Regions from separate parts of the Homo sapiens genome. Here region 2 is linked to region 1. Evidence: fine-mapped expression QTL. A gene starts in region 1. The other region holds a variant in brackets. All regions are shown on one strand. Distances are from middle to middle.

Region 1 (8,327 bases):
CTCGAACTCCTGAGCTCAAGCAATCCACCCGCCTCAGTCTCCCACAGTGCTGGGATTACAGGCATGAGCCACCGCACCTGGCCTAATTTATTTATTTATTTTTGTTAGAGACAGAGTCTGTCTCTGTCATGTAGACTGGAGTGCAATGTCATGATCACAGCTCTCTGCAACCTTGAACTCCTGGGCCCAAGCAACCCTCCTGCCTCAACCTCCTGAGTAGCTAGGAGTGCAGGTTCACACCACCATGCCCAGCTAATTTTTTTTTTTTTTTTTTTTTTTTGTAGAGACAGGGTTCTTGCTATGTTGCCCAGGATGGTCTTGAACTCCTGGGCTCAAGCAATCCTCCTGCCTTGGCTTCCCAAAGTGCTGGGATTACAGGCGTGAGCCACTGCACCCAGTCTAATTTATTTTATTTTAGAGATATAGTCTCTCTCTGTCACATAGACTGGAGTGTACTGTCATCATCATAGCTTCCTGCCACCTTCAGCTCTTGAGCCGAAGCAATCCGCCTGCCTCAGCCTCCCGAGTAGCTAGGACTGCAGGCACACACCACCATGCCTGGCTAATTTTAAAATATTTTTGTAGAGACAGGGTTCTTGCTACCTTGACCAGGTCAGCCTTGAACTCCTGGGATCAAACAATCCTCCTGCCTCAGCCTCCCAAAGTGCTGGGATTCCATGAGCCACCATGCCTGGCTCTAAATGCACAAATCTTAAGTGTTCAGCATGATTGATTTTTATGTACATATGTGTACATTTAGTATAAATGTGTGTCTGTGTGTGCATATATATACACATATACATACATATGGTAACCATTACCAGATCAACATATTGAATATTTCTTACATTCTAGAAGTACCTCCTCCAGTCAATAACCCCAAAGGTTATACTACTCTGCCTCTATCACCACCGATTATTTTGCCTGTTCTTGAACTTCACATACATAAAATCATATATATATATTTTTGAGACATAGTCTCGCTCTGCTGCCCAGACTCGGATGGTGTGATAACAGCTCACTGCAGCCTCAACCTCCTGGGATCAAACAATCCTCCTGCTTCAGCCTTCTGAGTAGCTAGGACTACAGGTATGTGCCACCATGCCCAGCTAATTTTTATATTTTTCTGTAGAAACAGTTTCATTGTGTTGCCCAGGCTGGTCTCAAACTCCTAGGCTCAGGTGATCTGGTCACCTCAGCTAACAAAGCGCTGGGATTACAGGCGTGAGCCACTGCATCCAGCCAAATCATCAATTTTGTGCACTTCTGCATATATTTTATTCAACATTATGCATGTGAAAATCATCCACGAACTACTGCTAAATGTATGTTGTTGCATGCTATATGCCTGTAGCAGTAGTTCATGCAGCAGTTCAGTAATCTTTATTACTATACAATATTTCATCATATGAATAACTACTACTTATTTATCCATTCCGCTGTTGATGAGCATTTGAGTTATTTCTTGTTTCAAGGTATTATGAATAAATCTGCTATGAATTTTTTTTTCCAAGACAGTTTCGCTTATTGCCCAGGCTGGAGTGTAATGGCACAATCTCGGTTCACTGCAACCTCCGCCTCCCGGGTTCAAGCGATTCTCCTGCCTCAGCCTCCTGAGAAGCTGAGATTACAGGTAGGTGCCACCACACCCAGCTAATTTTTAGTAGTGATGGGGTTTCACCATGTTGGCCAGGCTGGTCTCGATCTCCTGACCTTGTGATCTGCCGCTTCAGCCTCCCAAAGTGCTGGGATTACGGGTGTGAGCCACTGTGCCCTGCCAAAGTGGTACATAAAAACTTTCACTCCGCCACCAGGAAGACAATTTGCCCAACCTGTTCAATACAGTTCCCGCTCAACAAACCCCAATTTAGCATCTTCTATGTGTCAGGCAGTATGCTGAGCATTGGGACCTCAAGGATGAGGAAGATGCAGTCTCTGCCCTAGAGGAGCTTACAGCAGCAGGAAGTTTCTGTCATAGGACAGACCCAGGGCTCACCAAGACTCAAGCAGATGATGAAGCCTGGGGCTCACTGGCCCAATCAGCGTATTCAGACTGGCTGGCTGCTTATGAGGCTCTTGGGCCAGGGCTGCCTGCTCAGTGGGCAGCTGACTCTAGCTGCTGCAAAATGCCTTTCACTCAAAGGTGCTATCTACCAGTGATTATATGGCATTCCAATTTTACCTGGAAGGGAGATGCAGCTACCAGCTGTTTCTTCCCTCTCCCAACCACAAAGTAACACATTTTTCATTTGTCTATCTGTTGTTTCCAGGTTTTTGCTTTTGCCAATCCCCTCCCTCACATGCCTTGAAACAAGCACTTTCAAAGACAAAGACATAAACAACAAAAGGGTGCAGGCTGAGGTGGGTCATCTTCTCTGCCTGCGTCTCCAACTCTGGATCCTGCAGTTACTGGACTCAGGCCATGGCTGACTCCTTCATCACAGCTAAGATGCTGCTGGGTTTAAGGCACTGTGACTTTCTGTGCCACTAAGACCGACAAAAAGCTGCCAAGTGAACGATGACACAAAGAAAGACACAAACTGTGGGACCCAGCCCAACTTCAGAGCTGCTAAAATGTGAACAAAAATGCATCCCGGAATGGATGGAAACCGATCATTCTAGTTGGTGTGACCTGCTCCAGTGCCTACAGTACGTGTCCTGACAGCGTGGGAGGGGATATGAAGGCCCCCCAGTCAAACAGGAGACAGCGTTAGTCTCCAAACTTAACTTTGTTATCTCTTTCCCTCCTGGGGCCCAATACCCGCCAGCCAGGACCTGTTTCTCCTCCATCTCACATTCTTTCCAGGTTCAGGACTGAAGTCGTCTTGTTCAGCTCCTTGACTTGGCCATGCTCACTCTACAATGCAGCCCATGGATGGCGCCCCCTCTGCCCAGCACATCCCTCTGCCTGGGCTCTTGTCTCCCCGAATCCTGCAAACCCCAGCCCCAGCCTTTAGCGTTCAGCCGCCCTCCCCGCTTCCCTCATCCTCCCTCGCGTCCTCGCAGTGAGATTTCAACATGTCATCTCAGTTTTTTTGTTCTTTTACTTTCCTGACTACAAGAAAAATAAAATAATCTGTCTTAAAGTGTAGCATGAGGCCAAATAATTACGGAATCCCAAGTGCTTTGGGCCCTGATGTCAAAAGAGCCAAGATGAATTCAGAATATTACAATGGTGCTGTTTCTGCGAATACTGCTTTTTCAAGACGCCTTATTCCTAACATCATGTTTTATATCCATCCTTTTAAACAAATATTTAATAGCTTGGGAATGCTGGCGAGAGCAGCGGCTCCTGTCAGCAAGGACTGAGCTCACAATTTGAAAGATGAAAGGAGATGCGTTCTACCCACAAAGAAAACGGTCTCCAGCATCATAAACTCCACATCCATCAAACCGGGCAGGGGCTGGGAATAGAAAGCCTTTCTGGAAAGAAAACACCAGCTACCCTTTGCACCCTGGGGAACATTAAAAATCAAAACAAAACATGCCACATCAACCAAAACATAAACCAGTTCTCAAACCAATCTAAGGTTCCACCCCACCAAGGCCGGCCGCGCAGTGGCCTGTGGAGAGGAGGGCCCGGCTCACGTCGGAACCCGAACCACGCGGGGTCGCAGGAACCTGAAAAGCGCCAGAGTAGCCCGGCGGCCGCACCGGGGCTGACCTGCAAGGCCTGGACCAGCCAGGAGTCCCAGGGAAGTCGAGTGCTCTCTGAGCGCTAACCACGCGCCCCTGCGGTTCCTCGGCCTCAGTTTCCTTACCTGTAAAATGGAGCCGCTGATCCTGCCTCCTGAGTTGTGGAGCGAGGCCCGCACCTGGAAGCCTTGGCCACATAGGGCGGGAAGGGCAGGGCTCCGGGGTGAGGGAGGGTGGCGGGAATTCGCACGGCCTCAGAGGACGGGGCCAGCTAGCCGGGAAAGGAAGCAGGAGCAGGCTCCCCAGGCGGCGCAGTGGGAGGACCCCAAGAGTTGCGTCCCTAGATCCAGGGCCGCCAACGTGGAACCTAAAGATCCAGTTCTGGGGATTGAGTTCCGACTCCAAACCAAGCGGCCAGCTCACAGCCGCCGCCGCCGCCAGCTGGGGAGCTCGCCGGCCAAGTGCGCACCCTCTTCCTGTTAGCCCTCCACGTGCGCGCCCTCTTCCTGCTCGCCCTCCACGTGCGCATCCACGTGCGCGGGAATTGGCTGGCGGAAGCTCCTGCCCCCAGGCAGTCCTGGGTCACGCGCACTTGTAGTAGCTTGCATTTACCAAGACAGTGAGACAGTGGCCTGGCGCGGTGTCTCATGCCTATAATCCCAGCACTTTGGGAGGCTGAGACGGGACGATTGCTTGAGCCCAGGAGTGAGAGACCTGCCTGGGCGACATGGCGAAACCCCGTCTCTACTAAAAATACAAAAATTAGCCTGGCGTGGGCAGGGCGCGGTGGCTCACGCCTGTAATCCCAGCACTTTGGGAGGCCGAGGCGGGCGAATTGCCTGAGGTCAGGAGTTCCAGACCAGTCTGGCCAACATGGTGAAGCCCTGTCTCTACTAAAAATTAAAAAACATTAACCGGGCTTGGTGGCTGGCGTGCGCCTGTAATCCCAGTTGCGCGGGAGGCTGAGGCAGGGGAATTGCTTGAACCAGGGAGGTGGAGGTTGCAATGAGCCGAGATCGCGCCACCGCACTCCAGCCTGGGCAGCAGAGCAAGACGCCGTCTCAAAAAAAAAAAAAAAAAAAAAAAAAAAAAAAAAAAAAAAAAAAAAAAAAAGCCGGGCATAGTGGTGCAGTGCCTGTAGCCCCAACTACTTCAGAGGCTGAGGTGAGAGGATCACTTGAGCCTGGGAGGCGTAGGCAGAGGTTGCAGTGAGCCGAGATCGTGGCACTGTACTCCAGCCTGGCGAAAGAGCAAGCCCCCATCTCTAACACACACACACACACACACACACGTGTGAGATAGCTGTGTCTGTTTGGCAGTGATGAGCTTCCCTTTATGGGAGATTTACATAATTATTCATAAAGGAGCGGGAATGGGCATTACTGTTAAGCATGTTACGGGGTCTCCCAGATGTGCATGTGCGTGCTAGTACACCACATCACATGTCTCATTAGCATTTTAATTCCTCACCCAGGGGTGTGTTTTTTAGCATTAAAATGAGCATAGGTCATTCCAAGGACACTCTAATCATGGGTTTCTGCACTTGTGTGAATTTGGGGATTTTCCCTTCTGCTGTTCATCCTCTTCGCTGCAGGATGTTCTAACTAGGAGCCTGATGCAGTTTATGCACCAGTGGGCGGTTTGTTCTCTACATCAATCTGGCAAGTTCATTCCCCTTTAAAGGAGGCTATGACCACTGTATCTAACCGACCTCATTTTCCCCCTCAGAGACTTTGGGTCCATGTTCTTATGAAATGTGGAGGGCTGGGTCATTTTTTCTGGAGCTGCTTCGTGCTGAGACAGGACCAGGGCCCGAAAGTCTCTTCTTGCCTGATTTAAAGTGATAGGGGTCATATCCTCCACTGGGATAAGTTGAAATCCTTGCATAACTATCAATCTAGGAATTGTTGTAACCTAGAAGACACAGACTTTAAAGGAGCTTAAACAAGCAAGGACCAAAGGTCAGTAGTAATAAGATGGCTATTGTAGGTCCCATGAAAGGTAGCAGAATGAAGCATCACATCATTATTCAGCAAGCAGAAGAACAAAAAGAGCTCCTACAAATAGGAGACCTGAGATGGGACTACCTTATGTTAAAGTAATATTAATCTCTTTATTTGGGGTGTTGGCATCTTTTCTTGAAAATGAATGTTAGGTCTTCTATAGGCTTACAAAAGGATTTTTAATTTTTAGTTGTTGATGTAGAGTCCTGTGGAAACGTAAGGGAAACAGTTTTTATCCTAGAGAGATGCACCCAGCTGGCAATGTCCTGGATTCTCTGGACTATGGTGTGTTATGGTGGTCAGCTGGGCTTTTGAGAGTGCTCCTATGAGAAGGGGTTCAGTTGGTTTCATTGGTTTTAAAGAAGCCCCCAACGAGGGTAGCAACAAGGGAGTTAGGCATTCACGTCCTTGAGTCTGCAAATTAAAGGTTGGGTGGCTGGGCACGGTGGCTCACGCCTGTAATCCCAGCACTTTGGGAGGCCGAGGCAGGCGGATCACGAGGTCAGGAGATCAAGACCATCCTGGCCAACATGATGAAACCCCGTCTCTACTAAAAATACAAAAAATTAGCCGGGCGTGGTGGTGGGCGCCTGTAGTCCCAGCTACTCAGGAGGCTGAGGCAGGAGAATGGCATGAACCCAGGAGGCGGAGCTTGCAGTGAGCCGAGATGGTGCCACTGCACTCCAGCCTGGGCAACAGAGTGAGATTCCATCTCAAAAAAAAAAAAAAAAAAAGGTAAAAAGGTTGGGTAAAGTATCTGGTCCGGGTTTTTCATCAATTCCCGTGGCAGTGCAGTGTTTGGCCTATTTGGCCTACTAGGGTCGACGGCAGAATGTAAGGACTGACAGGCTGGTCCCTGTATGTAATAGAAAATTAGCTACACCTGCCACGTGCAGGGTCACTGGATTCCTCTGTGGTAATGGGGACTGAATGACAGCCAGTGTTAGCCTTGGGTCTCCTCAGTCTTTAGTCAGGGCCATCAAGGAATTGGAAGCCCCTGTCTCCCTACGGAGTTGGGGGCAGTCCTGCTTCCGGTGACTGGCATCTCTGCATTGTGGATATGGTCTAGGTGGAGCGGACTTTTGGGCATTTTGTCCCTTGGTCTGGCAGTTTTGGGGCCAGTGTCCTGGTTTTAAGTGTAGCAGGTGTCCCCAGATTGGGGCTTGGTCTGGACTGGCTTGTTCTCTCTGATAGCAAGGGCCAATAATCGGAGGCCTGGTTTATGTCTCTTGCCTCTTCCCTCTTTCACTTTTTAGCCTCTTCTACTCTGTCTCATTATAGAAGACTTCAAAGGCTACATTAATTAGCTCATTCATTGGTGCCTGGGGACTTACAGCCAGTTTTTGTAACTTTCTCTTAATATCTGGAGCAGATTGACTAATAAAATGAGTCCCCAGAAGAATTTGACCTGCCTCAGAGACAGCATCTACATTGGTATATTTTTCTAATGCCTTTACAAGGCACCCCTGTGAAGACTCAAAAGGACCATATAATATTTCAAAGGTGCTGGGTTGCAGATTGGTCTTGGGAGCCGCTCTTACTTGGAGGAACGCTAGAGGCAATCACTTTAATAAGGACTCAGAAGTCTCTTGCCAGAGCTTCGCCAGAGTTTTCTTTACAAGTAGCTTTTTCTAGCTTTCCTGAGGATGGAGGTCTCCAGGAAGCATGTAAATGATCACTTACTCCTAGAGTGGTAGCACTTGCTGGGTTATTTTGGAAACAAAGGAGGGGCCATTGTCGCTTTGGAGTGACATAGGTAGCCCAAATCGGGGAATGATTTCTTTTAAGAGGCACTTGTGCCTTTTCTGTTTTGGTGGAGTAGGCTTCAATCTATCCCATGAAAGTATCTGTAGAGATCAGTAAGTGCTTAAATCTTTATACTGGTGGAACTTAGGGAAAGTCTAACTGTCTGTCTTCCCCTGGGTACCTTCCTCTCCTCTGTACTGGCATCAGTAATGGAAGTGGCCTTATTTTCCTTTCTGGGTTATTGATAGAGTAAAGTGGTCTCGCTGTAGTGTGTGCTTTTACAGTAGTAGCTAAGCCTGTTCCCTTAAGGGTTCATGTGACCAAAGCGTTAGAGAGCCCCTTCCTAGGTGTCTGTAACCCCCTTTGATTAATTTGCATTGATGACCTTGAGGTATTAAAATTTTTGAATTTTGGGGCCGGGCACGGTGGCTCACGCCTGTAATCCCAGCACTTTGGGAGGCTGAGGTGGGCAGATCACGAGGTCACGAGATCGAGACCATCCTGGCTAACACGGTGAAACCCTGTCTCTACTAAAAATACAAAAAAATTAGCCAGGCGTGGTGGCGGGCGCCTGTAGTCCCAGCTACTTGGGAGTCTGAGGCAGGAGAATGGCGTGAACCCGGGAGGCGGAGCTTAAAGTGAGCCGAGATCGTGCCACTGCATTCCAGCTTGGGCGACAGAGCAAGACTCCATCTCAAAAAAAAAAATTTGAATTTTGGGTCCACCATCATTAGGGTCTTGGTATTATCCCTGTTCAGTTGCCCACTCCCTTTCAGTTTGTGTGTGTGCAGGCACTAGCTCAGGAGCCATAGTTTCTGGGATGGGAGCCCCTGCTACAAATGGAAGGGACACAGCCTGTTGAGCAGTTGCATTTGCTAAATTATCATTTTTTTTTTTTATTGTTGTAGAGTTCCCTCTTTGGTGTCCCCTGCAGTGCATAAC
Region 2 (8,327 bases), 80 kb before region 1:
ACATTGGCCAGGCTGGTCTCAAACTCCTGATCTCAGGCGATCCCGCCCACCTCAGCCTCCCAAAGTGCTGGGATTATAGGTGTGAGCTACCACACCCAGCTTTTACTACAATTTTTTTTTTTTTTGAGATGGAGTCTCGCTCTGTCGCCCAGGCTGGAGTGCAGTGGCGCGATCTTGGCTCACTGCAAGCTCCACCTCCCAGGTTCACGCCATTCTCCTGCCTCAGCCTCCCGAGTAGCTGGGACTACAGGCACCCGCCACCACACCTGGCTAATTTTTTGTATTTTTAGTGGAGACGGGTTTCACCGTGTTAGCCAGGATGGTCTTGATCTCCTGACCTCATGATCTGCCCGCCTCAGCCTCCCAAAGTGCTGGGATTACAGGCGTGAGCCACCGTGCCCAGCAACTACAATTTTTTAAAAAGACAGGCTCTCAGCTCACTGCTCTGTCCTCAGCGCCTAGCACATGGCTGGCATGCAAGCGGTAATTCTTGATGAAAGAACATGAGTAGAGAGTTCAGAGCCAGCTTAGCTCTGGGGCCTGATGTTCCTGGCCTTTGGGGAAAGCCTCCAGAGCCCGCAGGCCATGGCCTTCCTGCCCAGGCCTGAAGCAAACACTCACCTGGGTCTTCTCTTGCCAGAGAGGGAGCATCTCCTGCTGGCCCAGCATTCGAGCAATGACCACAAGGCTGAGCTGGCTTCGAAGCCGCCTGGGGGAAAAGCGACAGCCTGAGAGAGGGTGTGCTGGAAGTCGGGGAGCCCGAGCAGGGGGCAGGATACCCATGGAGAGGGGACTTTGGGGGAGCCACCCTCCATCTGGGGTACCCCAGCAAAGGGCTTTCTCCATTGGCTTACAGCATTATGTATTCTAGGAGGAATGAAACTCTCATGATCAGAAAATTAAATAATAAATCCACACAAAAACTCAAGTCCCTGGTAATTTCAGAGGCCCACAGAGCTGGGCTTTTCTTAGTTTTTTATCCCCTCTGCCGATACATATCCATGGATCCATAGAGGCAGCAGCACTGAACTGCTTATTTTATTTTATTTTATTTTTTTTGAGACGGAGTCTCGCTCTGTCGCCCAGGCTGGAGTGCAGTGGCACAATCTCGGCTCACTGCAAGCTCCGCCTCCCGGGTTCACACCATTCTCCTGCCTCAGCCTCCTGAGTAGCTGGGACTACAGGCGCCCGCCACCATGCACGGCTGATTTTTTGTATTTTTAGTAGAGACAGGGTTTCACCATGTTAGCCAGGATAGTCTCGATCTCCTGACCTCGTGATCCGCTCGCTTCAGCCTCCCAAAGTGCTGGGATTACAGGCGTGAGCCACCGCGCCCGGCTGAACTGCTTTTCAATACGCCTCTGCCTCTTCTTTCCTTTGTGGCTCCACCTCTGCAGGGTGGGGGAGGCTGGGGGACTGACTTGGCCTCAGCAGGCCAAACTTCATGGTTTTCTTTTCACCCAGTATCCACTGGGCTTTCCTTTGGGAAATCCATCTCCTGCCAGGCTCCCAGGACAGGCACCTGACCCAGTCACTGAGAGGTGGCCTCGGGCTGTGGCTGAACTATCAGCAAAGTGCAGGCATGCAGGCCTTTCCAGCAGGGCCGCCACTACAGCCACTGGTGGCCATCCTGCCTCCTGGAGGGAGAATCAGGAAGAGGAAGCCACAGGGAGGCAAAGAGGCTGAAACAGAGCCCTGAGAATGCCCAGAGACAGCTGTGCCTGGAACCCCTGGCCCCTGGACCTCTCACCCCAGCCTTGCATGCAGAGAGGCTCCCTGGGTGAACGGGAACTGAGGCAGGAATGGCTTCCTCAAAGCTCCGGTGAGGCTGGGATCACAGAGGCATTAATCTAGGGTCTAAAATCCTGGGGCACTTTTAGATTTTCTTAGGAAAGAGTCAAGAAAGTCAGAGGACTCGACAAAGCAGCGGACTCTTGGATTTTTCAAAAAGCAGAACAAGCAGCAGCAGCACCGCACCCCAGAAGAGCCAACACGAGCTGGGGCCATGCCAGGTGCTGGTGGGGGCGCAGGGTTATGGGCACTCACACACAGCTGGCAGGATATTGATGGGTGCGCCACTGCCCAAAACTGGCAAGATCTACTAAAGATGTGTAGATGCCCACCCCATGCCCAGCAATCCTACTCCTAGGTACAAAGTTGCAAAAAAAGGAGAGGCACTAGAAGGTTTGCACAGCAGCAGCAGCAGCAGCAACAGCACAGTGGACAGACAGATCAGGCTGTATCCATACAGCTCAGTCCTACGGGGGGGTGTTGTGATTATGAATGAACCACAAGTACCTCCAACAACATGAACGACCTCCAGTGTGGTAGGAAAGCAGCCAGACACAAAAAATGTATCTGCATGGTCTCATTTTTTGTTTTGTTTTGTTTGAGACAGAGTCTCGTTCTGTCACCCAGGCTGGAGTGCAATGGCATGATCTCGGCTCACTGTAACCTCTGCCTCCCGGGTTCAAGCATTTCTCCTACCTCAGTCTCCCAAGTAGCTGGGACTACAGTCACGCACGCGCCACCATGCCTGGCTATTTTTTTTTTTTTTTTTTTTTTTTGTATTTTTAGCAGAGACGGGGTTTCACCATGTCAGCCAGGCTGGTCTCAAACTCCTGACCTCAGGTGATCCAACTGCCCTGGCCTCCCAAAGTGTTGGAATTACAGGCATGAGCCATTGTGCCCAGCCAACAGGGTCTCATTTATATGAGGTACAAACATGGGCATGCCAGCTACAGTACTCCACGCCTGCAGTCCCTGCTACTCAGGATGTTGAGGTGGGAGGACTGCCTGAGCCTAGGAGTTTGTGGCTACCTTGGGCAACACAGCAAGACCCCAACTCTTTTATGCCCGGGTTTAAGCGATTCTCCTGCCTCAGCCTCCCAAGTAGCTGGGATTACAGGCGCCTGCCATTACGCCCAGCTAATTTTTATATTTTCAGTAGAGACAGGTTTCAACATCTTGGCCAGGCTGGTCTTGAACTCCTGACCTCATGATCTACCCACCTCAGCCTCCCATAGTGCTGGGATTACAGGCAACCCCAACTCTTAAAAAAAAAATGCAAATGGCAAACTTCAGCTGTTGGAAGTCTGGATACTCATGACCCTGGGGTGGGGGTGGGGGGCAGGTTCTGATCATGTTTCATTTCTTGACCTGGGTGCTGGCTTCACGTGCATTGGACTTGTGAAAATGCACTGAGCCATACACTTAACTGTCTTTGCTCTATTGTTTGTATATTGTAGTTCAATAAAACAATTAAGAAAAAAATTCAGGCCAGGCACAGTAGCTCACGCCTGTAATCCCAACACTTTGGGAGGCTGAAGCGGGTGGATCATTTGAGGTCAGGAATTCAAGACCAGCTGGGCCAACATGCTGAAACCCCATCTCTACTAAAAATACAAAAATTAGCTGGGCGTGGTGGCACACACCTGTAATCCTAGCTACTCGGGAGGCTGAGGCAGGGAATTGCTTGAACCCGGGAGGCAGAGGTTGCAGTGAGCAGAGATCACACCACTGTACTCAAGCCTGGGCGACAGAGCGAGACTCCATCTCAAAAAAAAAAAAAGAAAAAGAAAAAGAAAAAAAAAGTTCAGCTGGAAGGGAGATAGGATTGCTAGATTTAGCAGATTAAAATATAAGATGCCCAGTTAAGTCGGGTGCGGTGGCTCATGCCTGTAATCCCAGCACTTTGGGAAGCCGAGGTGGGCGGATCACCTGAGGTTGGGAGTTCAAGACCAGCCTGACCAACATGGAGAAAACTCGTCTCTACTAAAAATACAAAATATATATACACAAAAATATACATATATGTGTGTATATATATATATATATATATATATATATATATATATATATATTTTTTTTTTTTTTTTTTTTTTTTTTTTGAGATGGAGTTTCTCTCTTGTTGCCCAGACTGGCATGCAATGGTGCGATATCGGCTCACCGCAACCTCTGCCTCCTCGGTTCAAGCGATTCTCCTGCCTCAGCCTCCGGAGTAGCTGGGATTCAGGCATGTGCTACCACGCCCAGCTAATTTTTTTATTTTTAGTAGAGACGGGGTTTCTCCATGTTGGTCAGGCTGGTCTTGAACTCCCTACCTCAGGTGATCCGCCTGAGTGTTCTGCCCACCTCAGCCTCCCAAAGTGCTGGGATTACTGGTGTGAGCCACCGCGCCCAGCCAATACTTTTTCTTTTTCTTTCTTTTTTTTTTTTTTTGAGCAGGAGTCTTGCTCTGTTTCCCAGGCTGGAGTGCAGTGGCGGCATCTCAGCTCACTGCAAGCTCCGCCTCCTGGGTTCAAGCGATTCTCCTGCCTCAGCCTCCCAAGTAGCTGGGATCACAGGCATGTACCACCAAGCCCGACCGAAAATAATTTTTCTGGCATAAGTTTATCCCATGTGATATGTGCATCGTGTCTAGCAACCCTGAGAGGGACCAACCATTCCCCTCCATGCCTGACTGTGAAGGCCTGATGTGAACCATCGTGGGGGTGCCCTGACCCTGGGCCCCTTCAGCCTCAACCCCCTCCTGTGCAGCACCACTGTGTACTCACTCAACACTTCCCACTTCCCCCACACTGAGCACTGAGGAAAGGCAGCGCCCACCCGGACTGAACCATGGGATAACTAACAGAAGCCCCTTATCCCCTCTCTACGGCCCCTACAACAGACCCCCGTGGGTGCAGGCCACCCCGTGGCCCCACACCCAGAGCCCCAAGCTTCAGGTTCTCCCCCACGCACAGGCCTTCGCCTCCCTGTCAGACAGGGCCAGCTTTCCAGCTGTTTGGGAGCCCCAGCAGCAGCTGGGCCGGGAACACAGTGGGAGGTCAATGGCCCCTCTGAGCTGCTCCACAGTGAACTCAAAGCCAGTCAGAAGTCTGCATCTGGGCTTCATTAATCCAAAACTTGAGGCCTGCGCGGGAGCTCGTTTACTCGTTTACTCACAGCGGGCGAGGAGGGCCTGCCCGGCCCGGGGGTGAGGGGAGCAGGCAGGCCGGCAAAGCAGTGCCAGGGGTGGTTCCAGAAGGGAAGAG[G/A]CGGGCAGGGTGGGTCAGGATGGGGCTGTTATCCAGAAATGAAGAAAAGCACCACAAGAAGCACCAAGAGGGTGCATGGATGAAAAGAAACCCACATGTGAGTGGCGAGCCCCCTTGCTGTCCCCGCCTGCCCACTGCCTTTCATCCTGATGGCCCTCCCCGCCTTTTAAACCCCGTCCTGCATTCTTAGTTCCCACTGGGACACAGCAAGGAGGGGGCAGGGGGCGGGGCGAGACCATTTTTTTATTTTACAGACTGAGAACTTATTCCATGGAGAAGAAAAAGAAAAGCCTCACCCCACCACCACCCAGACTGTGCAGGGCACAAGCAGAGGGGCTGGCTGAGGCTGGCTGTGGGCTCTCCCTCCCATAGAAGAGGCCTGACCCCACCTGGCAAGGCCTCCCCGGAACTCCAACCAGGTTCAGAGGAGGAGGCAGAAGCCATGGGGCCATCCCAGCCACTGTCATATAAGGCAACAGGCTCCAGCCCTGGCGTGCACCAGCCAGGCCAGGCTAGGCCAGGCCAGCTTCTGCCTCCGCCCTGTCCCCCTCCACCCACCAAGGGCCTCCACAAGACCAGGACACTGGATTAGCACTCAGAGGAGTCGAAGGCACTGAGACATTCACAAATGACTTTTCCAAACCCGCAGCAGGGCCAGAAGTGGAATGCCAGCGCTCTGCTTCCTAGCCTCCGCAAGGGGCACCCAGGAAGGCAAAGGCACCAACCACGTGGGCTGCTGGGATGTCGGGCAGTGACATAGGCCAGCACAGCCCCTCTGGAGCCCCTTGTCTTCACTCCCTGGGAGGAGAACTGGGCCCTGCCAAGACTGAACTGCCCTAAAAGGCTGTCAGGCACCTGGCCAAAGGCATGAGCTGCCTTTTCCAGTCTCCAGGGCAGCTCAGGAAGCAACGGCAGTGGCCTGTTCCACCGTGGCAATGCTGCCTGACATGCTGCCTCAGGGCGTCCGCCTGGCTCGCACCCCGGGCCTCTTGTCCATCAGGCTGCCTGTCAGCCACCTGCTCGGCACTCCTTCCCTGGACTCTTCATTGCGCACTTGCCAGGTGGGAAGAACAAGGGGGTGGGCTTAGAAGCTGGTTGTCCCTCCCGGGGGTCTGCAAGCCCACAGCCACCAGACTGCCTGGTCATCCACAGACCAGTCTGAGCACACAGAGTGTGGACGGGAATAGACGGCGGGACACAGTCGGCCACAGACCCAGACGAGTGGACCACCACAGGGCAACATGAGGAACCCGTCTATATATAACCACGCACATTGACGTGGAGAGGCCCCACAAACCAGGTGTTGAGCCAAGGAAGCCAGACCCAAGGGAGAATGCTCTGCATGGTCCCATTTATATAAATGTTTAAAAACAGGCAAAATTGGGCTAGGCACAGTGGCTCACACCTGTAATCCCAGCACTTTGGGAAACTGAGGCAGGAGGCTCATTTGAGGTCAGGAGTTCGAGGCCATCCTGGGCAACATAGGGAGACCCCATCTCTCAAAAACCAACCAACCAACAAAACAGGTAAAATGAATCTATGTGATGGAAGCTGTGAAAGTGATTACCTCTGCAGGAGGGAACGCCTGGCAGGGGCCTGATGGGGCTTCTGGGGAGCGGCAGACATTCTGTCCCATGGTCAGGTGGTACATGGATGATCTCTTTTGCAAAGGGCACGAAGTGTCCACCTATGATATGGGTCCTTCCATTCACACGTATTATAAGTAAATTAAAAGGTACACATGAACAATCATACCAACTTCCATTCTCATCTCCCTCTTTGTATGATAAAAATCACAGAACCTCAGGCTTAGAAAACACCTTGAAGTCTGCTGGGCGCAGTGGCTCTCGCCTGTAACCCCAGCACTTTGGGAGGCTGAGGTGGGAGGATCACCTGAGGTCAGTTCGAGACCAGTCTGGCCAACATGGTGAAACCCCGTCTCTACTAAAAATACAAAAATTAGCCGGGTGTGGTGACAGGTACCTGTAATGCCTGCTACTTGGGAGGCTGAGGCAGGAGAATCACTTGAACCTGGGAGGCAGAGGTTGCAGTGAGCCGACATCACGCCACCGCCCTCCAGCCTGGGCGACAGATCAAGACTCTGTCTCAAAAAAAAAAAAAAAAAAGAAAAAAGAAAAAAGAAAACACCTTGAAGTCACCTAATCTAGCTTCTGCATAGTTATCCATTTTAATTCTCTTTGCCACACCCCCAATAAGTGTTCACTTCAGCAAAGGAAGTGCAGTATCTGCCAAGACAGCCCAAATTCATTTACCGGACTAACCAAAGGAAATCGTTCCCATATTTTGCCAAAACCTGCCCTTCTGGGACTTCCACTCAAAGCTTCTGGATCCTGTCCTCTGGGGCCTCCAGGAGGGAGCTCTCCGCCAACCTAGGTCCTCTACGCTTGGAAGAAGTTGCCACATTCCCGTGGCTGCCCCTTCCTGCAGGTGCCACAGCCCCCTCATTCCCATCTTTTTGTATCTTTTTTTGCCATTTTGGTTTGGGTCCTCTGACGGCCCTGGGGGTTGTCAATGTTCCCTTTCAAGTGCGACACTCGGAGTTGAGGCTGATGCTCATTTTCTTGGCAGCCCCACAACACAACGCAGTTAACAGATTGAGCCCAAAGTCTTTTTTTTTCACACGTCTTGCTGTCAAATCCCATTTCCCAGATCCTGTTCTTAATTGTGCAGCTGGGCCTCCCTTTTCAACTCAGTCCATCATTACAGTCTGTTGAGATCTTCTGGGATCTTCGGTCTGCTGTCAGTTGTATTCATGTCATCTGTGAATCTGACCATTGTTCCATTAATAGCCTCATCCAAAACACTGGGCCTGCCCTGGCCAACCTGTGAGTGGAGACAGAACTCGGGGTGGTGACAGGGCCTGCCCTCTGGGCACACTCTGATGGCCAGCAGCACCTTTTGATAATGAGCCCACTTCATTCTGTCATCATTTGACCCGCATTCCTTCATGCCGAACCCAGCCTATGGTGACAGCCTCTACCAAATGCCCAGGAAACCTACATACAGGCACTGCACAGTCCTCTCTGGAGTATGATTCTGGTTGACCTGTGGAAAAGTGAGGCTTGCCTGGTATGATTTCTTGTTAGGACTCCTAGAAAGCAGTGTTTCCTTTTCTACGTATGTGCTCCCAAGCCGGAATCCCCTAGAGAATAACCTGGAGGAGCACATCAAGCACCATTGCCCCCATCTCCTGGAAGCCCTCCGCCTCCAAAAGTCCCCATGGAGCCACGGCCCCAACTTCATGTCTCCCAGGAGCAGTGAGACGCCGTC

Alleles and levels. Alleles are on the strand shown, and positions count from the first base shown. SD is a standard deviation of normalised expression in the study named.
For the expression in aorta of the gene that starts at base 4,101 in region 1, allele G in region 2 goes with a lower level than allele A (moderate effect, 0.70 SD a copy in GTEx).

Evidence for each region. PIP is the estimated chance that this variant, and not a neighbour inherited with it, causes the effect. A credible set is the group of variants that fine-mapping cannot tell apart.
Region 2: its variant is the best candidate, but not a certain one, in a credible set for the expression of FAM178B in aorta (GTEx, PIP 0.51).

Annotation. Positions count from the first base shown.
Region 1 is chr2:96,982,480-96,990,806 of GRCh38, forward strand. FAM178B (family with sequence similarity 178 member B) reads right to left here and starts at 4,101. Exons shown (of 17, transcript NM_001122646.3): 1 at 3,762-4,101. The coding sequence starts at 3,834. RefSeq lists enhancers at 3,138-3,658, 3,659-4,179.
Region 2 is chr2:96,901,999-96,910,325 of GRCh38, forward strand. FAM178B (family with sequence similarity 178 member B) reads right to left here. Exons shown (of 17, transcript NM_001122646.3): 13 at 622-709. Among named protein-coding and RNA genes, the nearest start is that of SEMA4C, 36 kb to the left of the region's middle. RefSeq lists enhancers at 1,690-2,189, 4,674-5,269. The variant G/A (reference allele first, on the strand shown) is at 5,037.